3 linked regions of the Homo sapiens genome follow. The protein of the gene in region 1 purifies or fractionates together with the protein of each later gene. This does not show direct contact. Each region holds a gene or a part of one and is shown on either strand. Other genes may lie near its edges.

The links.
Region 2: the proteins of BMAL1 (region 1) and LRFN4 purify together in Homo sapiens (affinity purification with mass spectrometry; 2 studies listed by BioGRID and IntAct, with this or other methods). This does not show direct contact.
Region 3: the proteins of BMAL1 (region 1) and BCAM purify together in Homo sapiens (affinity purification with mass spectrometry; 2 studies listed by BioGRID and IntAct, with this or other methods). This does not show direct contact.

What each region holds. Positions count from the first base shown.
Region 1 is NC_000011.10:13,370,294-13,380,172, reverse strand, and holds part of BMAL1 (basic helix-loop-helix ARNT-like protein 1), read right to left. Parts: intron 8,011-9,879; coding exon 7,764-8,010; intron 6,079-7,763; coding exon 5,972-6,078; intron 4,562-5,971; coding exon 4,411-4,561; intron 3,629-4,410; coding exon of another isoform or gene 3,534-3,628; coding exon 3,445-3,533; intron 1,852-3,444; coding exon of another isoform or gene 1,837-1,851; coding exon 1,728-1,836; intron 1-1,727. UniProt on the Homo sapiens protein: Transcriptional activator which forms a core component of the circadian clock.
Region 2 is NC_000011.10:66,851,838-66,862,324, reverse strand, and holds LRFN4 (leucine-rich repeat and fibronectin type-III domain-containing protein 4 precursor), read right to left. Parts: upstream 5,262-10,487; 5' UTR 4,581-5,261; coding exon 3,232-4,580; intron 2,689-3,231; coding exon 2,130-2,688; 3' UTR 1,850-2,129; downstream 1-1,849. Other genes in the region: PC (pyruvate carboxylase, mitochondrial precursor), read left to right, coding at 8,942-9,086, 9,489-9,578, 9,665-9,886, 10,379-10,487. UniProt on the Homo sapiens protein: Promotes neurite outgrowth in hippocampal neurons. May play a role in redistributing DLG4 to the cell periphery.
Region 3 is NC_000019.10:44,804,205-44,814,064, forward strand, and holds the start of BCAM (basal cell adhesion molecule isoform 1 precursor), read left to right. Parts: upstream 1-4,898; 5' UTR 4,899-4,920; coding exon 4,921-5,002; intron 5,003-7,020; coding exon 7,021-7,142; intron 7,143-7,958; coding exon 7,959-8,187; intron 8,188-8,273; coding exon 8,274-8,344; intron 8,345-9,045; coding exon 9,046-9,142; intron 9,143-9,233; coding exon 9,234-9,416; intron 9,417-9,860. UniProt on the Homo sapiens protein: Transmembrane glycoprotein that functions as both a receptor and an adhesion molecule playing a crucial role in cell adhesion, motility, migration and invasion.

The sequences.
Region 1 (9,879 bases):
CTGAGTGTCCCCCACCTTTCTCTACTTATGTCTATGAAACCACTATTTTCCCAGGTTTCTCATCTTGGAATTGCTGTTTCATCATTCCTGATTTCATCTTCAAACGCTAGACCTTAGATGATTGATTTCTCTTTTGGCAGTGTCATCTCTGTAGGATAAGGCCTCATTCCTGAGTTGTCAAACATGCCCACCTTCATCTCTCCCTATTCCAATGCAACTTCCACAAAGCGTAACACAAGACTTTGGATGCTTGTTCAGCATCCTACAACAAATGGGGTCTTACAGGTTTCTTCCAAACTGCACAGTATCATTTCTTGTGTTTCTTAATCGCCTATCATAGCTCTGTGTCTCCTTCCTACACAAAGCCTGCCCAGTTAGGTAGCTTGTTTCTTGACCCTGAATTTGCCACTCACATGCCCACTCAAGAATAGCCCTGGCTTTTCTAGAGGGAACATCCACTCTTATTGCAAACCCTGGCTAAGGCCAAGTTCAAATCTTTCCTCTTTTGCTTGCTTTGGCCCATGCACCCTCCCTTTTTCCTGTTATCATAAAGAAAATAGACTTATAAAAGATTTTAAAATTCTTGAGGTCAAGGACTGTTTGATACTGTTCTTGGATGGTCTCAAGCAAAATACAGGGTATGCAAATGCAAAGTATAGGGTTTGAACCTGATTACACTGCACACTACCCTCATGTCTCCTTCCTGATGCAGAAGTCACACCCACTAATCCTGTGGGGTTGGAAAAGAGCTGTGTTACCTATAGGGGGATAACAGCCCCTTTATGGCCAATTGGAAAACAGGCCAGCCTCTAATTCTCCTGAGAGAATCCAGCGGCAGCAGTGTTTTCTTCCTTTTCTTATGTTACATTAAGTTTCGTTCTGAAGAATCTGGTTACCACCTTCTCTATTCCCCAAATTTGGACAGACTTATGATAACTGCTTCCCTCTCGACTGCTCTTAAAGACAGATTTAATTAATTTTTAAGCACTCACTATATGTCAGGCTGTGTTCCTGGAACTTTCCTGAGTGCCCTCACAATCCTAACACAATTCTTGGGAAATAGTGCTTTCTTTTTATGGTTTAAATCAACAGAGAGCAAGAGGTTAAGTAAGTCTCAGCATAGCCAGGTAGAGAGACAGGCCCAGGACTCAGACCCAGGTGGACTGCTTCTAAGCTCCTTCTCTTTCATATGGAAAGGAAGTCTCTCCCAAGACAGCTAGTAATAACTAGCTGATCTGCTTGGTTTCTAGTACTAATCCTGGGCAGCTCTTTGATTGAAAAAAAGTGAATGTTTTGTTAAGGTCCAGATCACTCTGATAGTTCACAGCTCTACTCCTGCATTCCTGTAAAGTAAAGGTACATCTATCCGCACTGAGAAGCTCCTTGAGCCATAAGAAAGTTAAGTCTTCTCAAGAATTCTCTTTAGCGCTGGGCTATTTTGGTTTAGCTTCTTTATTTAAGGCAGGATTTCTTAATCTAGGCACTACTAACATTTTGGATTGGATAATTCTTTGTTGGGTGGGGAGGAGGGAACTGTCCTGTTTACTGTAGGATGTTTAACAAGCAGCATCCCTGGTCTCTATCCACAGGATGTTTAAGTAGCAACCTCCCACCCAGTTGTGAAGACCAAAAATGTCTCCTGACATTGCAAAATATTGCCTGGGGGAAAAAATTTCCCTGGGTTGAGAACCACTGGTTTAACAGAGGAACTAGAAGGTGTTACTTGCCTGTGGATTTCCATGATTTCCTCAGCAATCATTCGGCCTATTTTTCCTGCCCCAGCCCGGGTTCCCCCTGGAATCCCTGGAACAGTGGGGTGGGTCCTCTTTGGGCCACCTACAACAAAGGAATCTGAGAGTAGGAAAGGGGAAAACTGAGGAAGAAATACTATTATGTATTAAAGTAAAACCAGTTTATCCCATGATCCATTTGCAGTTCAACATCAGAGTTGTGCCTTGAGGGACTTTAGGGCTACAGCTTGTCAGGAAAAGGCATTCCAGCAGGGAAAGGCTCAAGTTTCCTTCTAGGATCTGAGGCCAGTTTTTTCCCTTCATACAGCATCTAATTCTTTCCCTTCATGCACTGAAAAAAAACGTTTATTGAAGACCACTGTATGTGCCAGGGTTACAGAGACAAGTCCCTGCCCTCAAGGAGCTCACAGTTTAACAGGAAAACCAACAAGATGAACAATGGCTAAAGCAAAATGTTGTAAGTTTGACAGGCAAGCACGAGGCAACCAACTCATCTGGGGCCAGGTGCAGCTTCTGGAGCAAGTTAACCCCGAGCTGAGTCTTGAGAGATGAATATGAATTAGCTTGGCAGAGAGGTAAGGAGGAGAAAGCATTCCAGGCACAGCAACCAACACGTGCAGGAGCACTGAGGCAGGTTAAAACTTGGGAGACTCCTCCAAGGAATTCATCATAAATGATGATGAGAGCATGATAGATGAAACTGGGGCAGCAGGTACCAATCCGATCATGAGGGGCCTCTTGGATGCCGTACTAACGAATTTGGACAGTTTCCACAAGGGAATGAGGAGTACCAAAGGACGATACACAGAAAAGGCACAAATGAGAACTGGGTTATTAGAAAGTCCACGGCAGGGAGAATGAACTACAATGGAGGATGGGGTGGGGAGAGGGGGACTAGAGTTGCGAAGTGATTTGCAATAATCCAGGCAGCAGATGAGGAGGGTGAAATAGCAATAGTGGTGACGAAGTTTAAGAGATAGAAGGTTCAGGACTCCGTGTTTAGATATAATGGGGGAGAGACAACAGCCAGGTTTCTGGCTTAAACAACCAATCAGGTAGGGGAGTGCAGAAAATCAGCTTGGGATATTCTGAATTTCAGGTGCCTCTGAGACTCCAGGTGGTTCTGTCTATGAGGCATTTGGAGAGACAGATCTGGAGCTCGGGAGAGAGACTGGGCCAGGAGATGTGGATGTGGGAGTCATCGATGGGGGCTGCAGCCATGCATGTGGGGATGGTCCCAGGAAGGATGAGTCCAGCGTGGACAGCAGGGGCAGGGCCAAGGCTGAGCCTGAGAAGGGAGCCCAGTGGGTATGGTACACACCCTGGTGCCGAAAGACACCTGCCTGCCAACCACAGGAGTTAGTGACAGTCACGAAAGAGCACTTCACATCATGGCCACTAGCCAACACAGGAGGAAAGCACAAGGGGAGTAGGGAGTTTGCGAGCTCAAGGGCTTCCAGGGGCCAGCAGCTTTGGGAAGTGCAGCAGTGAGCTCCTAGTATTCCGGCTCAACAGAGAAAGTGACATGACAGTGTCCTCTGCATTCATGGGGAAATCCGCACATCATCCCCTCGAGGCCTCCCTTGTTCCACAGAATATGAATGGAGGGGACCCTGAATACTTTAGGGGAGGATATTTGACCACAAGCACCTTCCCACGGGCAAGCCCCAGGGCCCCAGCAGCACATAGTTACCTTCTCCAGAGGGCAGCATGCTGTCCATGCTGTGGGGGGATGCTGTGAGCTGTGGGAAGGTTGGGTCCCCGCCTTCCAGGACGTTGGCTCTGTGAACATCCCAGCAATAAGGAAACGTGAGTCAGGCCTGCTCAGAACTGTGCACCATTCAACTTGGCCAAGGTGTCCGGTGTCCACTCTGGACCTGGACAGGCCAGAAAATGAAGTGTCTGTCTGAGTGGGTAAACAGGTCTCACTGTTTGATAATATAATGGATAGCATCCTGGCCTTTGGCCCCACTGCCTGCCTAGGCCTTCCTAATATGTGTGGGACACAGTTCAGCAGAGGTGGTGGCTGCAGTAACCTACTGCCATCATTACAGCACCTCCTCCTGCCAGCCTGCAGTGCACCTAGCCCCGGCCCCTCACACAGCTCTTACCATAGGTGGGGTTTTGGACACTATGGGGAAGGAAAAGTGGGGAGCAGGCCTGGCCAAAGAGAGGCTCCTTCACCTCCCTCTGCTCATCTAGCAGGTAGCAGCCTTTTGAGATGGCATTCCAGCTGCCAGTGCTTGGGCCCCCTGCCTGACAGGTATGGAGACCTCCCCATCCTCAGCCAAGGCCAGTGTGAGCTAGTGCCTGAATGAGCCTTTCATAGATTGCCAACCCCTTCCTCCACAGCAGCACAAGTGGATGCCTAGGGTGCAGGGCCTGTGGAATTCAAAGGTTAGCTGCTTTATCTGGAAGGAAATGTTGCTATTTCCTGGAGCAGTTTCATAAGCCAGGGCCTGCATGGTACAAGTCCTGAAGCTTGTCCCTTTGTTAACAATCCTTTCTAGCTTCTGCCAGTCCTGAGGCTTCACAGGTATTAGCAAGATGGCATTAAAGGATGTGATACTGGATGTTGCCTGCACCCCATTTCCCAGATGAGGAACCCTAGGCATCTGTTTGAAGCAAGGGGAGCTTCAGATATAGGAAAAGTACTTACAAAACAACAGTGTTAGTTGAGACAATATATTCTACTTCCTTGGTCCAAGGGTTCATGAAACTGAACCATCGACTCCGTAGTGTGATAAAAGAACCATCTTTGATTTTAAATTTATAGCAATTAGTTGTAATTTTTTCTCTCGTCTGTAAAACTGAAAATGTAAAGAAAACATGGACATTGTTGTTTTCTCAGACCAAAGTATTAAACAGGACATCCAATACAAAATATTAAAGGTACTTGAGCTCCAACGACATCGCTCTTTAGTAAGCCAAGGAAACTGCAGTGGTCAACACTCAGGAAATAGGTTGTTTCTGAGGGTCTAACTCAGAGCCTTTCAATTCATTTGTGAAGCTGTCATGATTTTCCATAGTCTGTAAAATTGAGGCTCTAGGGAATTACTGACTGCATGTTATACATCTAACTGGAATCAGCTCTAACATGACCACCAGCAAATGAGAAGGCACTGTCCAAAATGTCATGCTTTATCTCAATCACAAAGCCCAAGGGCAATATAGAACTTATCTCATTTCTAAGAACATCCAAATCAACAGAGGCTACTCACCTATTCAACCTCATTCTTTCATGTAACATGTAATGAGCCCTTCTCATGTGCCAGGCACTGGAGATACAAGAGGAGACAGGCTATGACTCCTGCCCTCAAGAAGAGTAGTGAGGGAAGGCTATACAGGGAGAAGAGATCAGAGCCTTGAGGGATGAACACGAGTTTGCCAAGAGAAGGAGGGAGGGAAGAACCCAGCAGTGCCTGAGGAGCAGCAGGGTCTGGTTGGGGAGAGGCCAGTGAGGTCAGTGTGCCTGGAGCACAGGCCTCTGCAGGCAGGGATGGGGACTGAAACTGAGGAGGTGGGCTGGGGCCAGAAGGTGGAAGGTCTCACATTTGATTGCCTGTCAAAAGCATTTGGGCTTGAGTCTAAAGCAGGAGGTTTTTAAGCAGGCTGATGTTACCAGGCTCAATCTATCTGGGGATAAATAGGATAACTATGGAAGATGAACTGGGGGTGAGAGGGATCAGAGAAACCCTGAGAAGTCTATCACAGGTCTCTAAGTAGGCACGAGGGCCTGAACCAGGGTGATGGCAGAGGTGGTAAAAAGTAGACTTTTGGAAATGCATGTCTGAGGTGAATGAACAGGATCTGGTGGAGACACAGTGAAAGAAGGGGTCAATGTTGGTCTCTCTCAGGAGCCTGCACATGAAGCCACAGCATTAGTCAAGACAGAAAACACAGGAGGTAGTGCAGGCTTGAATGGAAAAGAGAATCAGATCAGTCTGGGCCATACTAAATCTTTACAGGGTCTGGGAAAACCCTCTGAACAAGAGATGTCTTTCAGAAACTGCCATGCAGTCAGCACAGGGCAACTACAAGGGGGATAAACAGTGCCTGCAGGTATCAGCTTCCTCTTCACACAGATGTTCTGACCTGAAGAGTCCTAGGCTGGCTGACTCTACATCCTCAGTGGACAGATTTCCCTGGAAGGTCATGTTGACTAGTCTAGAAGCAAGGGGACACTTTCAACTTAAGATCTTTCATACATCCTAGCTTACCTTGCCTATGACATTCTGCAAGATGTCCTATGTCATCTTGGTGAAAATATTCATAACACGATGTGCCTAGAAGTTCTTGTGGTAAATATGCCAAAATAGCTGTTGCCCTAAAAGGGAATAAAGGAATATTTAAAGAAGAAAAAGCCATTCAGATGATTAATTGCAACTTTGCAATGGATAAACCCTGCTACAGCCTATGAGAGCAAGGTCAAAGCTGCAGGCAAAAGAGCTGGATGGATTTTCAGAGGGCTCACTGTGTGGATCTTTCTCTCTTTTTTTCAGGCATCTGAATTTAATCAAGGCTATAAAAATAGAGGGAAACAGAGCAAAGCCTTTGTAAAGGGACTATTATCACAAGAAATCAAATCTGAGGGGGCTTTAAAAATTGCAACCAGTCGGGCATGGTGGTTCATGCCTGTCATCCCAGCACTTTGGGAGGCCGAGTTGGGCAGATTGTCTGAGCTCAGGAATTCAAGATTAGCTTGGGCAACATGGTGAAACCCTGTCTTTACCAAAAACACAGAACAATGAGCTGGGTATGGTGGCACATGCCTATGGTCACAGCTACCTGGGAGGCTGAGGTGGGAGGACTGCTTGAGCCCGGGAGGTCAAGGCTACAGTAAGCCAAGATCTCGCCACTGCACTAGATCTAGCCTGGGTGACAGACTGAGATCTGTCTTTAAAAAAGGAACCACATTAATTAGATTAAAATGTGGTATAAATCTAAACCTCAGTGCAAGGCTTCTAGTTTTTGCTGCCTCCTTTTTATCAGGACAACCAAATGCCAGAAGCTGCAGCAGCTGAGGCCACAAGACAGCTGAGGCTGTCTCTTTTTCCAGCATGTTGTGGCTGTCTCTAGTAGCCAGAAAAATTATTAGCCTGTGCATATTCTGAGGGAAAGCAGTAGGCAGCAGTAAATTTGGGACACCTGGGTCCTTGGTCCAGGTCTATTACCAATTAATTGTGAATCCTACAGGAGACCAGTCCCCAGGCTGGCCTCTGTTCTTCATCCATAAAATAAGGAGGTTGGATTAGATCAACGCTGTCCAACAAGACTTTCTGTGATGATGGAAATGTTCTATGTCTGTGCCGTTAGCCACATGGGAGGCTACCATGGCCAACGAGTATTTTATTGGACAGCTCAGGACTAAATAATTGCTTCCAAGTCCTAGATTCAAAAGAATTTCAATCACAATAATGGTTCTGGAACATTCCATAGATTCAGACAGCATGCTATCCCTACTGTTTTTCTTTTAGCCATGGACATCAAGGCACCCCACTTAATTGTCTCTATATGCCAAAGAATGACAGAAAAATCTCTGTATTTATGATGATATCCTATTGAATCTCATTTTTTAACAGAGACTCTCATCATTTGTCTCTTTTTTTTTGAAACAGGGTCTCACTCTGTTGCCCAGGCGGAAGTGCAGTGGTGCAATCACAGCTCACTGCAGCCTTGACCTCCCGAGGCTCAGCTGATCCTCCTGCTTCAGCCTCCAGAGTAGATGGGACTACAGGTATGTGTCACCATGCCTGGCTAATTTTTGTATTTTTAGTTGAGACAGGGTTTTGCCACGTTGCCCAGGCTAGTCTCAAACTCCTGGGCTCAAGTGATCCACCCACCTTGGCCTCAAAAAGTGCTGGGATTTGAGGTGTGAGCCACTGCACCCAGCTTTTTCTTTCTTTCTTCATTCTTAGAAAAGCCAGCTGATGGCCCAGTCTTCTCTGCTTTTTAGATCAGGGTTGAAAATCCTCTACCATCATTGCTCAAGGGTAGTATGTAGACTCTTACCTCTGGTCTACAAAAACAAACTTTCCATCTATCGCGTGCCGAGAAACATATTCCATAGATTTCACCCTGATTTCCCCGTTCACTGGTTGTGGAACTACATGAGAATGCAGTCGTCCAATTGCGACGAGGCAGCTGAGGTTACACCCCTCATTGTCTGGTTCGTTGTCTTCATCCAGCCCCATCTTTGTGGGTGGCCAGCTTTTCAAATAGCCTGTGCTGTGGATTGTGCAGAAGCTTTTTCGATCTGCTAGAAAGCAAAGTTCGTGGTTAGTGTCAGCACTAGGTTTGGGCCATGGAGGTGTACACGGCCGATGGTGGGATGGGATGTAGGTAGGGAGTCAAAAAATAAAAAAAAATCAAGGCTTCACTCTCCAGAAGTAAGCATCTAATGAAAGGGGCAGACGGAAAGAGAAACAAACTGTCATCCAGTGTCAGAATGCTTAAGTAGGGCCAGTTATACCATGGACATTCATTACATACACCAAGGAAGGAATATCTAACTCTTCCTAGGGAGAGGAAGGCTCCCCCAAAAAACCAGTAGAGGAGGTGGATCAAGAAGGATGAGCAGTGGCTGAGGGACTAGAATGTATAAAGGCTGATGACGTACACAGGCACAGAGGCACAGCCTATATAGGAACTGGCCAAGAGCTCTGTGTGGTTGAAGTGAAATTGGAGGTACTGGGAGTGAGGGGCAAATTGGAAAGGCAGGTTGGAGGAAGATTAAAAGGGCCTTGGATTACTTTCTAACCAATGTTGGTCTGTCTTTTTAAGGCAGGAAATGGAGAGCATCTACAGGTATTTAAGTGCAGAAACAGCAAAATCAAATTGTGGTTTGGATGCTGTAGGAGCAGAGTGACGTATGAACTGGAAGACAGTAGAAAACAGAAGTAGGAAGGCTGATTCAGGGGCCAGTGGCTATAATACAGCAAGAGATTAGGAGGACTGAACTATGGCAGTGCAGTGAAGATGAGAGGGAGCAGAGAAAGAAAGCAGGAGAAATTTCTGAGATCAAACTGTTGGGATTTGCTGTGAATATCAGGCTTAAGGGAAAGAAACAAATGAAGATGACTCTAACTTTTCTGGATTGGGTGGTTGCTGGTGTCATTCACTGACTCAGAGAAGAAAGAAAACAGACTAGAAGAGAGAGAGAGAAAAAAGATAGTTCGATTTGGGACACATTAAATGTGGAGCACCTATAGACTTCACCAACAAGCAAACCACTATGGAGTGTCTGCCAAGCGTGGAGTCTGTGCTGGTTACTGGAATAGAGTGAAAAACAAATCAGACATGCCCTTGTGGAGTTTACAGCCTAGTGGGGGAGACAGACTTTAAACAAATAATCGCACAAATAACTATATAACAGCAAGTATAAGAAAGCACTAGAAAGCAAACCAGTAGGGTGCTATAAGACATAAGGCAGTCTGAGGTTGGAGAGAGCCATGTGAAGGGAGTTCATGGGGAGAGGGAAGAAATTCCAACCAGGAAGCGACAGCATGTGCAGAAGCATTGCCCAGAAGGGGCTTGAGGCATCAAAGGAAGTCAACATGGCTCACATGTGCTTAGTGGCAGGGTCGGGGGCTGCATGGTCACGTTAAATATTTTGAGCTTTTCTTCAAGAACAATAGGGAACACTGAAGGGTTTTTAAAAGGGGACTGATAAAAAGATCATCCTGGCTGCTGTGTTGGGGGTGGGGAGCATGTGGGTCTACACTTTATGAGACCTGGTGAGAGTTGGGGGCAGCCTGGAGCTGAGTGAAAGTAGGCAGCATGGAAAGGGACAAACATTTCAGAGAACTTTTGCAGATGGGACTCATTGTGGCAGGACTTCATAACTAACGGGATTGAAGAGTGGGGTGGTGAAGCAGAAGTGAGGGCACCTCCCCGGCTTCTAGCATGAGCAGCCAGCTGAATGGCAGTGCCATTTATGCTGGAGGAGAGGCTCAGGTGATTACTTCGGCACGTATCCTGTTGGAGACTCCCCTGAGATATCCAAAGCAGGTTGATTTAGTAAGCAGTATATTTATGAATCTGGAGTTCAAAAGACAAGTCTAGGCTGGAAATATGAATGTGGAAGTTGTTGGCATTTAAAGCTGAGGGAGTAGATGACATGACCAAC
Region 2 (10,487 bases), about 53 Mb from region 1:
CCAGCCTGTCTCCCACCTTAAGAGGGAACAGCGCACTTCCTAGAGGCCAGGGGGTGTTACTCTTCCGTGGGGAGCCTCTCAGCCTCCCTGTTGGGGGTCCCTGTCGTGCACATAGGCAGAGGTGTGTCGCGACATCAGCTGTCGACATCACGCGCTCCCCCTGCACCTTGCTGCGGCTCCTGGTGTCCTGGCGGGGATGTCCTGCGGCTGCTTCGGTGTTGAGGGGATGCGTGGCCATGCACAGGGGTGACCCAGGCCATCCCCCTCGCCTGCCCCTGCCCGTTGCTCTGTGGTCCTGGCTGGCTCCTGGGGTTGTGCCCGGTTCCTCTGCTCCCTCCTCACCCTCAGCAGCTCCCCACGTGCCAAGCTGGTCCCTGGGCCCTAGAACCTTGCGCCTGCTAGGGGTGCAGCTAGAGGTGGGCTTCTGCACCCTGGAGGGCCCGGAAAGATCTTCCTCTTTAGACCGTCCCCCGCCCCCCAGGTGGAGAAAGGGGCACTAGAGACCGTGACCACGGGGCCAGCAGCAGGATAAGTGTCTCTGGTGTCTGGGGGTGCCAAGTCCTCCCCAAATGTGCACCAAGACCAGGCCGCTGGCTCTAGCCGCCTCCTGAGCCTCATGCTAGCGCCCAGCGTGGCAGCCCTGGCCCTCCTGTCCCTTTGCCGTCTGTGCCCACCCACCCTGTCCCGCGCCCCCGCCCACTCCTCCATGGCGTTCGCTCCCCACACCCTTCTCTGTCGAGGACCTTGCTCCCATTCATCTAAACCAGGCTCTCGAAGCCCACCTCTAGCTGCATGTTCTGGGGCTGGGAGGGCAGGCACACGCGTGTGAGCCAGGTCCATGCACACGTGAACACACGTATGCCTTAGAGCACCTGCCTCACCTCGGCTGCCCGGTGGCAGCGCCTTGGCCCTCACACAGAAAACACCAGGGAGTCTGTGCAGCGTGTTTGCCGTGGCCTGGGGTGCCAGGGCCGCCTTCTGAGTTTTCATACAGCACCTGGGGGAGCTTGACCCTCTGCAGGGCTGAGGGCCACGTCTGCCCATGCCCCCCAGCCAGTGCCTAGAAGCAGATAGTTCAGGAGGCTGCAGGGGCTGGGCCAGGTCGGAGGCTGCCCGGGCCTGGCCAGGGGTCCTAGCAGAGAAAGCAGGGCTCGTGCCCATCCGGCTGCCTCCCTGCAGCGAGGGAGGGCGAAGGCCGCCTTCCCAGGAAGGCCCAGAGCACATCTGAGCTGGCAGCTGCGGTCCTGCTCGGACCCACAGTTCTGACAGGAACCTTCCAGAGGATCACGGGCTGATGGCAGAGCAGTGGGGTTCCCTGCCCTTCCAGTCCCTTTGGGATGGCGTTTTACCAGTCCACAAGATGCCCTGGGAGGTGGCAGACACAGCTGTCAGCACCTGGAGCCATGAGGACTTTTCACTGTACGCTCAGCCCAGGTCCGTTCTCCCAGAGGGCTGTACCGTCCCCCACCTCCTCCTGTTGCTTAGTCCAGTCCTGTGTCCGCCCCGCAGACCCTGAAGTGCCATGGGGAAGGCGCTCACACGTGCTCCCCAGGCTTTACACTGGATACGGCGTCCTGTCGCCACCTGGCAGGAAGGGGCGTTCTTTGCACTTACAGGCGAGGGTAGGCCGCCTGCCCAAGCCCATGCTCTTGCAGGTCAGAAGACACCAGGCACAGCCCTTGGCCGCAGCCCTGGGCCGCCCCTGTGGACAGGAAGCCAGGAGGCCCCAGGCTGCTGTGACTGCCCCCACCGGCCCTGGTAGCCCCACCCTTGTCCGTGTGCCACCAGCGGCCCGTGTCCTGTCCTCCCGTCTCGGGGGACCTAGCCAGACAACACCAGAGACTAGCACTGAGGTGTCCCCAACAATTTTATTATAAATAAAAACAAGACTCCCAGTGGGTGGCTGCAGCCCCTGCCTCGGTGGCTGTGAGCACCTGTTGGAGGGGCCTGCCCTTACCCTGGTCTGGAGGCCAGAACCGAGGAAAGGGCTCCCTGCCCCTCCAAGTACACAGGGGAGCCTGAGGTACTGAGAATAAAAACCAGGGAGGGACTCCCAGGCCAGGCGGCGGCCCCGGGCCCTCTGCCCCACGAGGCTCATCCCTTGGAGCACACAGGAAGCTGCCCGTCCATCACACCACACTCTCTTCCAGCCGCTCGGCGCTGCCTCCTACCCCCCGGCACCCTGCCCCGAGCAGCCCCCCATGCACAGAGTGGCTCCGTCGGGCCCAAGCTCCTCCCAGGCGCCTGGCATAACCGTAGCACCCGGCATCTCCCAGGTCCAGAGAGCAGCTGCGCTGCGGCCGGGGCGGGGGGCTCCGCGGCGGGTGGGCCTTGGGTGTGGGGCTGGGGCCTCCATTGGTCTGGGACTGGACGTGGCTGAGCTTGAGGGGGAGGCGGCCATTTCCGGCCCCCCGGCCCCGAACCAGCAAGGCCACAGTGAAGACCAGTAAGGCAGCCACCAGCACACCCCCCACGGCCACGGTCAGGGTCCCGCCCAGCACGTGGGCCTGCAGGGCGTGGCACAGGGGCGAGGCCGGCAGCGTGGAGAAATGGGCACAGCCCAGCAGCCTGGTGGCCGTGAGGTCAGAGGGCCCAGCGGCCGGTGACAAGGCCAGCAGGCAGAGGTCATAGTCAGCGCCGGGGACGAGGTGCTTCAGCAGGAAGTGGTGGCTGGAGGCTGGGACAATCCTGCAGGCAAGGGCAGGTGGTCAGAGCCCGGGGCTGGGGTCTAGCCCCATCCTCACCTCCCCACTCCCGTGCTCCCAGCTCCAAACACCCCTCCCCCTGGGGCCACTCGGGCTCTTGGGTTCACTCAGGAAGGTGAACAGGCTGGAGAGTGTGGCCAGGAGATGGGTGTGTGCACTGGCACAGGACGCAGGCAAGCGAGGGGAATGGGGTGGGGGGATGGCACCAGCAGAGGCAGAAATAACACGCGGGCGCGGGCCATGTGCTTCAGACAGACCCAACCGCCACCTGCTGCCGGGGAGGCCTGCACAGCTCAGTGACACCTGGGACATCTCGGGGTGGGGTCCTTCTGCCGCCCCTTGAGCTCCAGCCCCCTCAGGCAGCCAGGCCAGGCCAGGCCACTGCTCCTCCAAGAGTCCAGCAGCCATGGTCGGGGAGGGGGTGTCAGCCCCAGAGAGAGGAGGGGTGGAAGCAAAGCCTTGTGGGGAGCAGAGGGCGGAGGAAGGGCGCCGGGAGTGCAGCCGGGTGTGGGGCACGCATCCTCACCGGTAGATGAGGGTCTCATCTTCGCTGCTGTTGTACTGGATTTGGAACATCCACACTGGGTCGGCTGGCCGCCCGGGACCCCAGCTCACCAGCCCTGAGGTGGCGGTCACCTCCGTCACCTGCACGGCTGGCTCAGACTCCAGCGTCCCCTCACCCTCGGCAGCAGTGCGAGCGGAGGCGGCGATGTCCGAGGGCCCGGGGCGGCCCCCCTCGGCACTGCTGTTCCCACCATGGGGCAAGGCCAGCACCCGCAGTTCTACTCGGGCTGTGGCCTCACCAGCAGGGTTGGTGGCGATGCAGGTGTAGCCCCCAGCGTCCCCAGCGCCGGTCACCCCAATCTCTAAGGTCCCGTTGGGGAAAGCCCGGGCTCGGGAGGAGTTGCCAACCAACCGGTCGTCAGGACCGACCCAGTGCATGGTAGGCGCGGGGTCACCCAGGGCCCGGCACCGCAGCGTGGCCCGCTGGCCTTCCAGCACCCAGAGGCGCTGCGTGTGGCGGGCAATGAGGGGCGGCTCACAGGAGAACTCGCCCTCGGGCACTGCCCAGAAGTAGCGGCCGGCCAGGCCGGGCGGGGAGGCGCACGTTTCCAGGTCGTCCGGCCGCGCCAGCCGCCGCAGCCACAGCAGCTCACAGTTGCAGTGCAGGGGGTTCCCGCTAAAGCTCAGCACCAGGGGGGCGGGAGAGGCCTCTGCATCACGCCCACGAGAGAAAAGCGGGTCCGGAGCCAGCGTGGCCAGGCGGTTGGAGGTGAGGTCCAGGCGGGAGAGCTGACCGAGCTGGGCGAAGGCGCCTGGGGGCAGTGCGTCAATAAGGTTATGGTCCAGGTTGAGGGTGTGCAGGGCAGGCATGGCGCCGATGCCGGCCCAGGGCACCTGCCGGAGGTTGTTGTAGGACAGGTCCAGGTCCTCCAGGCTCTCTAGGAAGTCGTCGAAGGCTCCCGGCGCGATGCGGCCCAGCTGGTTGCCGCTGAGGATGAGGTGCTGCAGATTGACGGGGCCCCGGAGGCTCCCGGTGCCCAGCTCCACCAGCCTGTTGCCGTCAAGGTGGAGGGAACGCAGGCTCTCGAGGTCCCCAAAGGCGCGGGCCCCAATGCGGGTGATGGCATTGCGAGACAGTGTCAGGTCCACCAGTCCCGTCATGTTGCGGAAGTCAGGGGGCCCCAGGGCCTGGATGAAGTTGTCAGCCAGCCGCAGCTCCACTGTGCGCCGGTCCACGTTGGGCGGCACAAACAGCAGGCCTCGGTGGGCACAGAGGGTGCTGAGCGACTCGGACAGGTTCTGGCAGACGCAGGGCAGCGGGCAGGCGGCCGCTCCACTGGCCAGCAGCAGCAGCAGGAGCGGCGGGGCCATGGTGAGCGCCCTGTAGGAAGGGGCCACAGCCCAGGCACAGGTGGGGCTGGCGCAGGTGCCCACTTGGGCCCAGGACAGTCCCAGAAGCCAGCTTCTGTGAGCCTGGCCCGGGGAGGGGCTGGGTCAGAGGCCCAAGAGGGCCGCCAGAGATGAGGGAAGGTTGGGGCCTGCAGGGCCAGGCCCCCCAGAGCAAAGGTCACATTTCCCAAGCAGTTAAGGGGGAGTCCAGGCGCTGGGGACAAGGTGAGGCATGAGGCAGGAAGCGGAGGAGGACCGAGAGCAGGGAGGGTCCCGGAACTTCCTTTCCCAGGCGTCCCCAGGAATCGCCAGCCGCCTCCCCACTCCCCGCCATACCCTCCCCCGCCAGAGAAGGCGCCCCCCGAACCTCCCGTGGAGTCCGTGGCCCCTCCCTGGCCGGCCCCCGCGCTGCGCCCGGCGGCCCCCTCACCTGGTGTCCGTCGCTCAGGGGGCGCGGGCCGGCCTCCCTGCGAGCCCGGCCGGCCCCCGCCGACTCCTGGCCGCTCTCCCGCGGGGACGAGGCCCGGGGATGACCGGCCGCCCGCCGCCCACCCTCGGGCCCATGGCGCTCGGGCCCGCGGCCCCGGCTCGCTCGGTTCCCGGCACCTTTTCCCGGCGCGGTTAGCGGTGGCGGCGGCGACAGGCGAGCGGGTGCGCGCCGGCGGGCGCGCGCGCCGCGGACACGCACGTGGAGGGCGGACGGGGAGGGGCGCGCGGGGATCCACCCGGGCCCGGGCCGGCTCCTGAGGTCACGGGGACACGCGGCCGCTGCAGCGCCCACGGGTGGCGCCCAGTCACGCCCGAGGCCCGGGCCGGCGCGGGCCCTCCGCGCTGTCCCCCGGCGCTGCCGCAGCGCACTCACCCTGGCACAGGCGCGCGCGCCCCCGGCCATCCTGGCGCCCCGGCATCCTGCACCGCACGGGCGCCCGCCGCCGCGGCGCGAACCTCACTCTGCAGACAGCCAGACAAAGCGCCTGCTCGCGGGCCCCTTCACCATCTCCCGGAGACGGGCGTCTTTGTCACATGTCGCTGGGCACCCTCCCCAACACACCCACACATGCCCACACACCCACACGTCCCTGCACCCACGGGCAGGGCCGAGCGCAAACCCGCACTGTTGCTGGGACCCTTGCGTTCACAGACACACGCTGAAGGTCATAACCGTTCTGCATCACCGAGTCACGTGGAGGGTCCCCAACCGGCACGGGGTTCGGCCGTGGGGGGGGCTGGGGCGGCGCCCCTGGCAGGGCTGCTGCGGGGTGGGGCCGAGAGGGCTTGGCCTCCGGGCAGGCGCCCCGCCCCCGCCGCCCCGCCCTGTCCCCAGCTGCCTCTCGCCTCTCCCTCCCTCCCCAGCTGCCCCGCCCGCCCCGCGGGCCAGGCGTTCCGGAGCCAACCGGCCTCCGCCTCGGGCCGGATTGGTCTGCGCGGCGCGGCTTCCCAACCGCCGGGGGCACGCATTGGGAAGCTGTGCGTCCTCGCAGCGCCTGCGGCCCCTCCCTCCCGCTCTGTCGCCGCCGGGCCATTTCCCTGGAAGAGCGGCTCGGAACCAGCTCCTCTCAGAGAAAGGGCTCCCGGCGTGAGGTGGGGGAGGTTCTTTGCTTCCTGGTTGAGAAAGCTGGGGCTTCGGTGGCTCGGCGAGCCTGGTTTCCTTCCAGCTGTGCCCGCCACCACCAGTGGTCTGCCCAGTTGGGAAACAGGAAGTCACCACCTCCCCGTGTCTCCTGGTCCTTAAGCCACCTAAACCTCAGCCATCCTCGTTCTCCCTCCAGCCCTGATCCCCATGGGCCAGGTGGCAGGAAACTCGGGGAAACCCAAGATTGGAATTCTGATCCTGTCAGCACAGCAGTGTAGTCCTGGGCACGTTACCTGACCACTGAAAACAAGTTCCTCCTGTAGGCCAGGAGAGTTGGATGGTACATACATAAGCATTTCCTAGGGGCGAGAGGGGAGGACAGCTGCAGCTTGTGAGGGGCTTACAGGCAGCCAGAAGCCATTCTGTCACCACTCACTGGGCCTCAGCTGTGGCGTTTGTAAAATGAGGGGGATTCAGTCCTGGTGCAGGTCAACTCTGATGTGCAGTGGCACCAGCTATGTCTTTGTTCCTCTTCTCCCCATCAAAAATGTTTTCCACCGGGTGCAGTGGTTCATGCCTGTAATCCCAGCAGTTTGGGAGGCCGAGGCGGGTGGATCACTTGAGGCCAGGAGTTCCAGACCAGCCTGGCAAACATGGCGAAACCCCATCTCTATTAAAAATACAAAAATTAGCCGGGCGTGGTACCGCATGTCTGTTGGGATGAGGCACGAGAATCGCATTAACCAGGGAGCCACAGGTTGCAGTGAGCTGAGATTGTGCCACTGAATTCCAGCCTGGGCGACACACTTTGTCTCAAAAAAAAAGTTTTCATTCACTCTAAATATAGATGTTTACCAGCATCCACCATGGCCACCCAGTGCTGGGAGCCGGGTTCATCAGGAACCAGATGGGCCTGGTTCCTGCCCCCATAGAGCTTACAGTATGGAGGAGAGGATGGGCAACCCGACAGTCACAAAGGGGAGACTCAGTGGGGACCCTCCACATGACTCGGTGATGCAGAACGGTTATGACCTTCAGCGTGTGTCTGTGAACACAAGGGTCCCAGCAACAGTGTGGGTCTGCGCTCAGCCCTGCCCGTGCAGGTTCCTCAGCGGCCTGCTGGAAAGGTGAGCATCAGCTCTGCCGAGGGTGTGAGGACAGGGCGAAGGCCTCCAAGGGTCCTTCTCACTCTGCGCGCTCGGGGCTCTTTGGATGGTTTCATTAGCTGCCTCCCTTCTCCAGTGCCATGCCTTGGCCCAGCTGAAATGTCAGCATCTCTTCAGGAGAGGCAGGGGCGAGGCTCAGGGGCAGACAGGCACAGCACTGCTGGCGGGGTCCCACTCTGTGGTGAGCACCTGACAGGCTGGTGGGGGAGGCACCCTTCCTGTCCAGGCCTCCAGGTAATAGGAGCCTAAGAGACGGAGAGCTCAGAGGAGTCTGGGTGGCCTTGAGTCCCTGTTGAAGGTGCCGACAGGGATCATGAATAAGTGACGCGTGGAGGTGTTTTCTTCGCGGTGGAAGCCAGGGCTGTCGCTACACAGCCACAGGCCATGCTTTCACAGGTCTTGGAGCACCTGTCACAGTGCTGGCTCGCATGTCCCCGTTTAAGTCATACTCACCCTGGCCCAGCCTCATGTTGTCACCCAGGCATTTAATGAGTGGAACCGAGGGCCCCTGTGCACAAAGTGCACTGACACATGCCTCAGGCAGCACCCTGCCCCCAAGGGTTCCCAGGCAGACAAGCAGAGGATGAAGCCGATGGGTGTGCTTGCCCACAGCGGGTTCCTCAGGGGACTGCTGGAAAGGTGAGTGTCAGCTCTGCCGAGGGTGTGAGGACAGGGCGAAGGCCCTTGAGAAGTTCAGGGAGAGCTTCCCAGGCAGGTGCAAAGGTGTGGAGCGCAAGGCAAGTTTGATGTGGCTGGAGGTGGCCACAATGAGGAAGGCGGTGGAGGGTGTGGCCTGGAGATGGAGAAGAGGTCACAAGGTCCCAAAATGGCCGTGGTCGAATCCTCTGGCTTGACCAGTGGCATGGGAGGAGTGGGTGATGAGGGTGATGGGATGCAGGTTTTGGTAACTGGGGGGACAGTGGGGCACCCACTGGGCACAGGAGGACTGGGTGCATAGGCAGGAAGCTGGCCGTGGACTTGCTGAACTTATGCGAGGGGTGAACAAGGAAAGGCCCGGGAGGCAGTTGCACCTCTGGGTCTTGCCCTGGAGGCAGAGCCTGTCACTGGCGCCACAGCCCCGGGACGGGGCCTCCTGGGGAGCATGTGGTGTGTGAGGAGCTGGGGAGGAAGAGGACAGGAGAGCAAGATGGCTTGGAAGCCCAGGGAACGAGCAGCAAGGCGGGAGCATGCCCGCTGGACTCAGCTGGGAGGAGTGACTTAGAGTGCCAGAGTGTGGTCTGTTGCGGTCAAGGCCCTCTTTCGAGAAGCGTGGACGAGGGGCAAGGGTGACTGCTGTGGGCCACGCTGCTGGAGAAAAAGGCTGAGCCCTGTTCTAGGCTGCGGGGAGGCAGGAAGGGTGGCCTTCAGCACATGCTTTGGTGTAAACAAGTATGGAGGGAGCAGGCCCAGCCCGTGACAGCTTAGGGGGCTCTGCTGGAGTGAGGAGAGGGCTGAGGGACGGGGAAGTGCCCCTCTGCAGGGAGGCCCAGAAGCTGTGCTGGCCCAGGGCAGCATCTTCAGCCTTTTCTCTTTCAGCCTTTTCTCCTCTGCCTTCCCTGTCTGTGCTGCATGGTGACCCCCTCCCACCCGCCTCTGTCCTGCAGACCAACATCGCCTTCCTGCAGAATGTGCTCAACAACCAGCAGTTCCTGGCAGGCACTGTGGACACCCAGTTCATCGACGAGAACCCAGAGCTGTTCCAGCTGCGGCCTGCACAGAACCGGGCCCAAAAGCTGTTGCACTACCTCGGTCTGGCCCGAGACTGCCCTGCCCTGCCCTCCCCTCCCCTCCGCTCTCCAATCTCTTGCTCCTACCTCCTTGCCACTCCCCATGACCAAAGAACTCCTTAGTGCCCCCTGCCCCTCACCCCTGCCCTCATTCTGGCCCTGCGTCCTCTTGTCCTGCACCCTGCCATTCACTGCTCTCCTTGCTTCTGATCTGAGAGACCCCACCTTTCCATCCACGTGGTCCTCAAGACGTCCCCACTGCCTGTACCCAGGAGGCCCTGGCTTTGGAGAGGACAGGGGCCAGCTGGAAGCCCGGGGATCCTGGAGGGATGTGTCCCTGTCCCTGAGCCCAGCCACTCTCACTGCTGCCCTCGACTCAGCCTCTGCCCAGCCCACCCTGACCCACTGCCCGCTTTCTCCCCAGGCCATGTCATGGTAAACGGTCCAACCACCCCGATTCCCGTCAAGGCCAGCCCCAGCCCCACGGACCCCGTTGTCCCTGCAGTGCCCATAGGTAGGTGAGATCCATTCTGTCAACTCATGGGGGAGACAGGAGGTTGCCACCTGCAGGATGGGCACCAATGCCCCTGTCTACCCTAGGCCCGCCCCCGGCTGGTTTCAGAGACATCCTGCTGCGAGAGGGGCCTGAGGGCTTTGCTCGAGCTGTGCGGAACCACCCGGGGCTGCTGCTGATGGACACGACCTTCAGGGACGCCCACCAGTCACTGCTGGCCACTCGTGTGCGCACCCACGATCTCAAAAAGATCGCCCCCTATGTTGCCCACAACTTCAGCAAGCTCTTCAGCATGGAGAACTGGGGAGGTAGGCTGGCATGCTGCGCAGCGCCTGGTAGGAATGGGCGCCCGCTCTGTGGCCAGTCCCACAGGCTTAGGCCACTGGGGACAAGCTAGAGACGCTGACACGAAGAACACCAAAGAGGAAGGACCGAAGAAGGCACAGCGCCCTCTCCGGCCAGGCCTGGTGCCGGCACGAGGTTGCAGAGCTGAGACCAGGTGCATCCTGGGAGGTCCAGGGTCAGGAGGAGACACCTGCCTGTTAATTATAGCACAGAGAGGTAGAGGAGAAGATGGGATTATAAAGGGGGCATAGAAGGGACACAAATGAGCCTGGTCTCCCCCTTAGAGATCAGACAAGGGAAAAATCTGTGGGGGTTGGAGCAGGGAACACAGGTATGGCGAAGATGAGCAGGACCTGGTATTGGGGCCAGAGGCTTGTGCTGCAGAGCTAGCTCCAAGGCCTGGTGGAGTTCCCCAGGCATGCAGAGCTGATCTGGGCCTCTCGGTTCCTGTGCAGGAGCCACGTTTGACGTCGCCATGCGCTTCCTGTATGAGTGCCCCTGGCGGCGGCTGCAGGAGCTCCGGGAGCTCATCCCCAACATCCCTTTCCAGATGCTGCTGCGGGG
Region 3 (9,860 bases), on another chromosome or scaffold:
TCTCTGCACTGGCCAGCTTGGGCTTCCCCACAGCATGGCTGCCTCAAGGTAGTCAAACTTTATATGGCCGCTGAAGACCCAGGCAGAAGCTGCATGGCCTTTTCTAGCTCATTTTGGGAGTTCCGCAACTTCACTTCAGCTGAATTCTGTTGGTTGTATGCAAGTCACCAAACTGCACAGATTTGAGAGGAGGGTGCCATAGACCCCAGCTCTTGATGGAAAGAGTATCAAGCTCTCATTGTGGAAACACACATGGGATGAAAGACACTGTCACAACATGGCAAAACCCCATTCCTACAAAAAAAAAAAAATTAACTAGGAGTGGTGGTGCACACCTGTACTCACAGCTACCCAGGAGGCTGAGGTGAGAGGATCACTTGAGCCCTGGAGGACGAGGCTGCAGTGAGCCATGATCATGCCATTGCACTCCAACCTGGGTGACAGAGCAAGACCCTGTCTCAAAAAGAAAAAAGAAAGAGATTGTTGTAGCCGTCTTTGGAAAACAGAATCTGTCCCAGCTGCCATGCATGGCTGGAAGAGGTGGCCAATTCCTGATATTCAAAAGTGTGGAAGGATTTGCCAAGCTTAAGTCACCTTAGCTCCAACAGATGCAGGAAAGCAAACATCCATTCTTGTTGGCTTCAAGAGTGGGCAACAGAGGCTTTCAGACAGTAGGAATTTCCTTAAATGTGGGAAGGAGCTGCAGATGCTAGGTAATCCTTCCCGCAAAATATGTACTATAGCCCGCTCCTTTGGTTTTTTTTGTTGTGTTTTGTTTTTTAGACAAGGTCTCACTCTTTCACCCAGGCTGGAGTGTAGTAGCACGATCTTGGCTCATTGCAGCCTTGATCTCCCCAGTTCAAGCGATCCTCCCACCTCAGCCTCCTGAGTAGCTGGGACTACGAGCACAAACCACCACCACCCCCGGTTAATATGTATTTTTTGTAGATACAGGGTTTTGCCATGTTGCCCAGGCTGGTCCCAAATTCCTGGGCTCAAGCGATCCACCTGCCTCAGCCTCCCAAAGTGCTGGGATTGTAGGTATGAGCCACCACAGCTGGCTTTGAATGTTCAATATCAATAGGCCCTTTGCAGAAGTTCTTATCGAAACTTTCCCCGCACAACCGTCTCTCATTGTACAATCAAAAAATGCATTCACACTGCCACCCAATACAAAAAATTTCAATAGTTCCATTTTCCAGATCTGAGACTGGAATCAGGGAAGAACCATTCCCCTCCAAATATGTCATTCTCCCCATATTCCACAAGCTGTGAGCTAGTTGTAAAGTTAATCGTCACACACTGTGTGAAAAATAATGGGAAAAAAGGTCAAGAAAAGATAAGTCAGCCAGGCACTGTGGCTTCCGCCTGTAATCCCAACATTTTGGGAGGCTGAGGCTGGTGGATCACCTGAGGTTAGGGGTTCGAAACCAGCCTGGCCAACATGGTGAAACCCTGTCTCTACTAAAAACACAAAATTAGCCGGGCATGGTGGCGCATGCCTGTAATCCCAGCTACTTGGGAGGCTGAGGCAGGAGAATTGCTTGAACCTGGGAGGCGGAGGTTGCAGTGAGCCAAGATCACGCCATTGCATTCCAGCCTGGGCAACAAGAGTGAAACTCTGTCTCAAAAACAATGAAAAGGTAAGTCTGGCCAACCGTGGTGGCCCACACCTATAATCCCAGCACTTTGGGAGGCTGAGGTAGGAGGATCGCTTGAGCCCAGAGTTTCAGAAAAGATAAGCCTTGTTAGTTAAAATATGTGAGGATATACACCTGCGGCCGCATGGATGGAATTAGAACTTTTTTTTTTTTTTTTTTTTTTTTTGATACTGAGTCTCGCTCTGTCACCCAGGCTGGGGTGCAATGGCATGATCTCAGCTCACTGCAACCTCCACCTCCTAGGTTCAAGCAATTCTCCTGCCTCAGCCTCCCGAGTAGCTGGGATTACAGGCACCTGCCACAACCCCTGGCTAATTTTTTTATTTTAAGTAGAGAGGGGGTTTCACCATTTTGGCCAGGCTGGTCTCAAACTCCTGACCTCGGGTGATCCACCCACCTCGGCCTCCCAAAGTGCTGGGATTGCAGGCATGGGCCACCATGACTGGCCATTTTTATATTTTTTTGTAGAGACGGGGTTTCGCTATGTTGCCCAGGCTGGTCTCAAACTCCCGGGCTCAAGCAGTCCTCCCGCCTCAGGCTCCTAAATTGCTGGGATTACAGACGTGAGTCCCTGCGGCTGACCTGGACCTCAGCTTTTACCCTAAGTGAGACAGAAGTCATGGGAGGACCCTGGGGCAGAAGAGTGACATGAGTTGATTCACATGTAAAAGGAATCCTTCAGGCTGTTTTGTGAGAATAAATTACAGGGGACAAAGGCAGATGATGTTACAAGACTAGTTTCTGCAAGTCTGCAAGGGTCCACGGCTGCTGTTTTGGTGTTTCTGACTTTTCTCCTTCATACACATGCCATAGAGTTCTCCTCCCTCACCCAGAACCTCAGATGGCTAGGTTCTTCTTTTTTTTTTTTTTTTTTTTGAGACAGAATTTCACTCTTGTTGCCCAGGCAACATCGTGCAGTGGCACGATCTCAGCTCAGTGCAACCTCCACCTCCCAGATTCAAGCGATTCTCCTGCCTTAGCCTCCTGAGTAGCTGAGATTACAGGCATGTGCCACCACGCCCAGCTAATTTTGTATTTTTAGTAGAGATGCGGTTTCACCATGTTGGTCAGGCTGGTCTCGAACTCCTGACCTCAGGTGATCCACCCACCTCGGCCTCCTAAAGTGCTGGGATTACAGGCATGAGCCACAGCGCCCAGCCTCAGCTGGCTGGGTTCTTGAGGGAGGTGGAAGTGGGCGATGGCTGCTGAGAGGGCATGTACCAGGGTCCAGCCCAAACAGAAGGTGCACAGGCTGGGGACAGAAGAGCTAGGGTATGGGTGTCGGTGCTCACAGTGTGTGAGCTTGACAGCACCTGGGACTGTCTTGGAGTGCCGCCGCATTCCCCATGAGTGAGTTTGTATTGTATATCCTGGGATGCTCCAGTCTGGATGGAATCTGCACGTGAGTTTGTGTGCCTTGCAAACAAACCTTCCCTGAGCACCTGCACTGTGTCTGGTCTTGTGCTGGGCGGGGTGCCCAGGGGAGGAGCCCTTAGCTCACCACAGTGATCAAGACATCCCTGGCCCTGCCCTCACAGGCTCACAGTCCACTGAGGGAGACAGACCTATCCCCAGCCAGGGACCCCCAGAGTGTGCCGGGCTCAGGTGGGGGAGCCCAGAGGGGGAACCTGACCCAGCCAGGGAAGGCAGAGGGGACTTCCTGGAGGAGGGGATGGTACAGTTAATCCTAAAAGGTCTTTCCCAATGTAACAGTTGCTCTGTAGGATGGATGCAGTGGCTCATGCCTGTAATCCCAGCACTTTGGAAGGCAGGAGGATCACTTGAGCCCAAGAGTTGGAGACCAGCCTGGGCAACATAGTAATACCCTGTTTCTATTACCAAAAAAATACAAAAATTAGCTGGACATGGTAACACAAGCCTATAGTCCCAGCTACTTGGGAGGCTGAAGTGGAAGGATTGCTTGAGCCCAGGCGGTTGAGGTTTGAATGAGCTATGATTGCGCCCACTGCATTCCCGGCTGGGCAACAGAGCGAGACCCTGTCAAAAACAAAACAAACAAACAAAAAAAACGTTGGTCTCCTGTATGACCAATGGATAAAGTAACCTTGACCAGTCTAATAACTCCCAGGCTGACCTGTAATCCAAGCCTTCTCTGTATGTCTGAGCAGGCAAAGCCCAGCTCCAGGGCTACCTCAACCCCCAGGCTGATCAGAAGCTTGGGTAACCTCTCCCAGTGTGGCCAGCGACCCCCCACCCTCCCACGTTCTGACCACTGTCCTGGGCAACTAGTGACATCTAGTGGGGGATTTTGTCCCAGTCTGACCTGGCCTGTAGGGGCCTTGGGCAGTCGGACCTGTGACCCACGCTTCCTAGCAGTGGCTGGACTCCTCCCCCTTCCCGCAGGTGCCCTGGCCTCTTCCCCTGCCCTCCTCACCTGCTCTGGCCAGTCTGACTCCTCCCTTCCCCACAAGGTTGGGAGGGAATGAAGGAGAGAGCGGGAAGGAGGAAGGGAGGGTGGCATTCCTGGGATTCCCTGGATAGGGGGAAGAGTGGGAGGGCCTTCCATGGGTGAGCAAGCAGAGAGGGCACCCCGTACCCCACCCCCAGCCCCATCATCGAAGCGGCCTAGGAGGACCTGGATTTGAAGACCATTGAAAATAAGAGATTAAACCGGTTGATTCCAGGCTACTGGTCAGACGAGGAAAGCAGCCCAGAGCACTGACCACAGGGGAAAACATCTCCGGGCATACTGGGAGCAGCTGCTGGGGGCCACTGGTCAGGCTGCGGGGGTCACTGGTTGGACTGGGAGAGGCCAGTGCAGGCCACTCGGACGGCACGCTTGGGGCCATTAGTTACACTGGGAGAGGCCATCGCAGGCCACAGGTTGCAGTGGGGTCCTCTGGTTAAAATCGACGATGCCAGCCCAGGCTGCTGGTCACAGTGGGGACGAGTCCCCAAGGCCCCTGGTCAGAATAACGAGGAGAAGGTCCGCGATTGCCTGGTGAGATCCCAGCTCGGGTCACTGGCTACGCTGGTCGATCAGGCCCCCCGCTGCAGGCGCTGGTCAGTAAGCCCGGACAGCTCTAGGCTTGGGGGCGGACGAGCCCCGAGCCTGGCCCCGTGCACTGGGAGGTCCGCTCCGGGCAGTGGGAGGTCCTGGCCCCGCGCCCGGGCATCGGGGGACGAGGGGGGCCTGGAGGGCGGGGCGGGGCGGGGCTGCCGGGGGCGGGGCCTCTGGCTCCCAGCCCCGCAGCGGCCGAGCTGCAGCCCGGGCTCAGTCTCCGCCGCCGCCGTGAACATGGAGCCCCCGGACGCACCGGCCCAGGCGCGCGGGGCCCCGCGGCTGCTGTTGCTCGCAGTCCTGCTGGCGGCGCACCCAGGTATGGCTCGGGCTGAGGGCAAGGTGGGACTGGGGAGAGGCCCCTGGGGACCCCGGGAAAGCGAGGAGAAAGGGCTTTACCCTGACCCCAGGAAGCAAAATGTGGGGACCCCAAGGAGGAGGGATATGGGAGTGTTGGAAGGTACGCCTTCCAGTGAGAGAGATCTGGGGACAGCCAGGCAGGAGAGCTGGGGATACCCAGGCGGTGGATCAGAGACAACCAGAGAAGTCAGCCCCCTTCCCACTCAGCACCCTGGAATCTGGGTCCCACCTGCCTCCTCCCTCAGACCCTGGAATCTGGGCCCCCAGCCCCTCTTTCCTCAGACCCAGGAGTCCAGGCCTCCAGTGGCTAGAATAGCTTCCCCCAGGGCACAGAGGATCAAAACCCCAGGGCTCTCTCCCTCAAAGGTCCTCAAGTTTTGAGAGGTCCAGGGACCCCTTAGAGAAGCGAGGACCATGTGTCCCCACACCAGCGATCCACATGTATTTAGGAGTTTCCAGAGTCCAGTATAAAGAACCCGCCTCCCTCAGGAAAGGGCTGGAGCACCAGCCCCGGGCAGTGACAGTGGAACAAAGTGTTTCCAAGTGACAGGCCCCCTTCCTGGGGCCTCAGCTACATTTACACACCTGCATGAGGATAGAAGGAGAGGAGGCCGGGGGCTGGGGGGTGGGGGTGGGGGTGCTGGGGACAGAGGGACAGAGAGATGAGAGAGATTGGGGAAGAGAGAGGAACTCTCTGCCTCCACTTGTCTGCAGATCAGACCCAGCCTTAGGCACCAGCCTGGACCCCGTCACCCCTCCCTGGGGACAGGCTGGGGCCAGAGGTGAGCGCTTGGGAATCCAGGCCCCTGGCACACTCATGGTCAACAGTGGGTCCCCAGGGGTAGGGCTGGGCCAGATTGAGCAGAGAAGGGAAGGGAGTTTCTAAGAAGCACTGAGAGCTGATGCCAGGATGCCAGCCCAGAGGGTGAGGGAGGGTGGTGGTTTTTCTACAATAACTACTCCACCAGGCCCCAGCCTCCTCTTCCCTCTGATCCCAGGAGTCCAGGTGCCCAGCTTCCCAAGATCCTGGGCCTCAACCTTATCCTTTTGCAAGATGACTCGACTTATCCCGTTTGCTGTTGTATCAAACTGAGGGGGGCCAAGAGGCGGCTGGGGGCTCTGGCTCCAGGCCGGGCAGGTCTCAGCCAGCCTGTCCCTCCCACATTCCTGAAACCTGCCCAGCCCTGTCCCCCCTCACCGCCCCCACACATCCATCCCGCCTAAGCTCCGGGCCCAGCCGCAGCCCACACCCCAGCCCCTCACTCATGGGAGAGCGGAAGAGACCCAGGGACTGAGTGGTGCAGGTGCAGAGAGAGGCAGAGACAGGGACAGAGATGGAGACCCAAGAGGAGAGACACACGCAAAGGTGGAGACCAGGATGGAGAGAAACATTTATCCATCATCACAGAGGTGGCCCTGCCCAGGGTGCTGGAGGCAAATGGCTGAGCCAGGCCTGGCCCTGCCCTGGGGGGTGGCGTGTGCTCTGTTGGGATAAGCAAAGGCTGGTGCAGTATTACCCCAGGAGTGTTCAGCGGAGGCCACAGGGCCCTGTGCAGCCCAGAGGAGGAGCCCTGAGCTCTGCAAGTGCAGGGAGAGATGGATTTGAGACCCAGAGATGCAGGGAGAAGGGATGGAGGGCGAAAGGATCTCAGGGAGGAGGGGCTGGGGCCTAGACTCCTGGGTCTGAGGGAGGAGGGGCTGGGGCCTGGACTCCTGGGTCTGAGGGAGGAGGGGCTGGGGCCTAGACTCCTGGGTCTGAGGGAGGAGGGGCTGGGGCCTAGACTCCTGAGTCTGAGGGAGGAGGGGACAGGGGCCCAGATTCCTGGGTCTGAGGGAGGAGGGGCTGGCACCTGGACTCCTGGGTCTGAGGGAGGAGGGGCTGGGACCTGGACGCTTGTGTCCTGGGGGAGAGGGGACCCTGTCTGGAGGGCTCTTCCTGTTGGTGTGGTGGATGATAGCTCAGTTGCTCTCTTGCAGATGCCCAGGCGGAGGTGCGCTTGTCTGTACCCCCGCTGGTGGAGGTGATGCGAGGAAAGTCTGTCATTCTGGACTGCACCCCTACGGGAACCCACGACCATTATATGCTGGAATGGTTCCTTGTGAGTGCTTGGGGCTGGGGGGCCTGGAGTCAGGGCACAGCAGGGCAGCAAAGGTTCATTCTCTCATCAGTGCCTAAGGCCTGTAGAGATCCACCAAGCCACACTCCTTGTTACAGATGGGGTCACTGAGTCCCACTGAGGGGAAGGGATCTGCAAGGTGCCCCGTGTCTAGGCACAGCCAAGTCTAGAATGACATTGACCTGCTCTGGACTGCGGGCTCTTGAGAGAGAGAACAGAGACAGACATCAAGAAAGCAGAAGCCAGGCACGGTGGCTCACGCCTGTAATCCCAGCACTTTGGGAGGCCGAGGCGGGTGGATCACGAGGTCAAGAGATCAAGACTGTCCTGACCAACATGGTGAAACCCCGTCTCTACTAAAAATACAAAAATTAGCTGGGCGTGATGGCATGTGCCTGTAATCCCAGCTACTCAGGAGGCTGAGGCAGGAGAATCGCTTGAACCTGGGAGGTAGAGGTTGCAGTGAGCCGAGATCGAGCCAATGCTCTCCAGCCAGGCGACAGAGCAAGACTCTATCTCAAAAAAAAAGAGGAAAGAAAATGAGAGACAATCGGGAGAGGGAGAGACCAAGAGGAGAAGGGATGGGACCGGAATGAGATGGAGAAAAGGAGACAGGAAAAATCAAGAACTGATAGGGAATGGGGGCAGGAGAAGGTGGGGAGGGACAGAGGGACCAGGGAGACCCATAACAAGAGGAAAAGAGGCAGAGCCAGGAGCTGCAGAGAGAAAGGACCCAGAGAGAGAGAGACTGAGGAGCGCTGGGACACCCGGAGCTGAGAGCCTGCCCCGCGCCCACAGACCGACCGCTCGGGAGCTCGCCCCCGCCTAGCCTCGGCTGAGATGCAGGGCTCTGAGCTCCAGGTCACAATGCACGACACCCGGGGCCGCAGTCCCCCATACCAGCTGGACTCCCAGGGGCGCCTGGTGCTGGCTGAGGCCCAGGTGGGCGACGAGCGAGACTACGTGTGCGTGGTGAGGGCAGGGGCGGCAGGCACTGCTGAGGCCACTGCGCGGCTCAACGTGTTTGGTAAGTGTCCTCGGGCATCCCCCGAAGGGAGGCAGGCAGGGAGGGGCGCAGGGCAGGGGCTCCTGACGTGAACGTCTTTTTCACAGCAAAGCCAGAGGCCACTGAGGTCTCCCCCAACAAAGGGACACTGTCTGTGATGGAGGACTCTGCCCAGGAGGTACCTCTCGGGTGGACCTTGGCCCCAGGGTCCTGGAGGAGGAGGGGACAGGGCCCTGGACTCCTGGGTCTGAGGGAGGAGGGGCTGGGGACCCCTGGGTAATAAAGGAGGAGGGGTAAGGCCAGGCGAGGTGGCTCATGCCTGTAATCCCAGCATTTTGGGAGGCAGAGGCAGGCGGATCACCTGAGGTCAGGAGTTCCAGACCAGCCTGGCCAACATAATGAAACCCCGTCTCTACTAAAGATACAAAAATTAGCTGGGTGTGTTGGTGTGCAACTGTAATCCCAGCTGCTCGGGAGGCTGAGACAGGAGAATCACTCGAACCCAGAAGGCAGAGGCTACAGTGAGCTAAGATCACACCACTGCACTCCAGCCTGGGCCACAGAGCAATACTCCGTCTCAAAAAAAAAAAAAAAAAGAAGAAGAAAAGAAAAAAGAAAGGAAGGGCAGAGGGGGAAGACTCCTGTGTCCTAGGAAGGAGAGAGCTGGGGGACCCAGAATCCTTGGTCCCTGGAGGATGGTGCTGGAGGCCTGGACTCTTTAGTCTGAGTCGGGGACTAGGAATTTGGACTCCTGGGTCCTGGGAGAGTCGGGAGTTAGGAGCCCGGCTCATGAGTCTGAGTGGGGAGAACTCCTGAGAGAGGAGCCCCGACTTCAGAGTCCCAGCTCCAAGCCCAGGGCCATGCCCGTGTCTGCCTCAGATCGCCACCTGCAACAGCCGGAACGGGAACCCGGCCCCCAAGATCACGTGGTATCGCAACGGGCAGCGCCTGGAGGTGCCCGTAGAGATGAACCCAGGTGAGCAGCGCAGGAGCGCGGCGGGACGTGGGCTGGGGTGGGTGGCGGGGCTATGGCCTGGCTGACTGCCACCTCCCCCGATCTCTCCCAGAGGGCTACATGACCAGCCGCACGGTCCGGGAGGCCTCGGGCCTGCTCTCCCTCACCAGCACCCTCTACCTGCGGCTCCGCAAGGATGACCGAGACGCCAGCTTCCACTGCGCCGCCCACTACAGCCTGCCCGAGGGCCGCCACGGCCGCCTGGACAGCCCCACCTTCCACCTCACCCTGCACTGTGAGTCTGTGCTGGCCTTTGACCTCTGACCTCAGGCTCCACACCTCATGAGGCCTGACCCTCCACCCGGGGGCTTCACACTCCCCTCTGACCCTCTGCCTCCCTACTTCATGCTAAAAAAAAATGTGCTAGTGCTGGCCACTGACCTCTGACCTCAATTGGTCGCACAAGCCCCATCCTGACCTCTGACCTCCGACCTCCACTTAGCACCCTGGACCCCATGAAGTTTATGACTAAATGGTGCTTTCCACCTTCTCACACTGAATTGGGTCCCCCCATGACATCTGGCTCCAAGTCTCACACTGACCCATCGCCCATACGGACCTCTGACTCTTGACCTATACTCTTAGTTTATTTCAACCTCTGAACTCTGGCACTCAGAATAATTGTGAACCTGAGGCTTGAAACCTATGACCCGTAACCTTTGACCCGCCATAGCCCTCA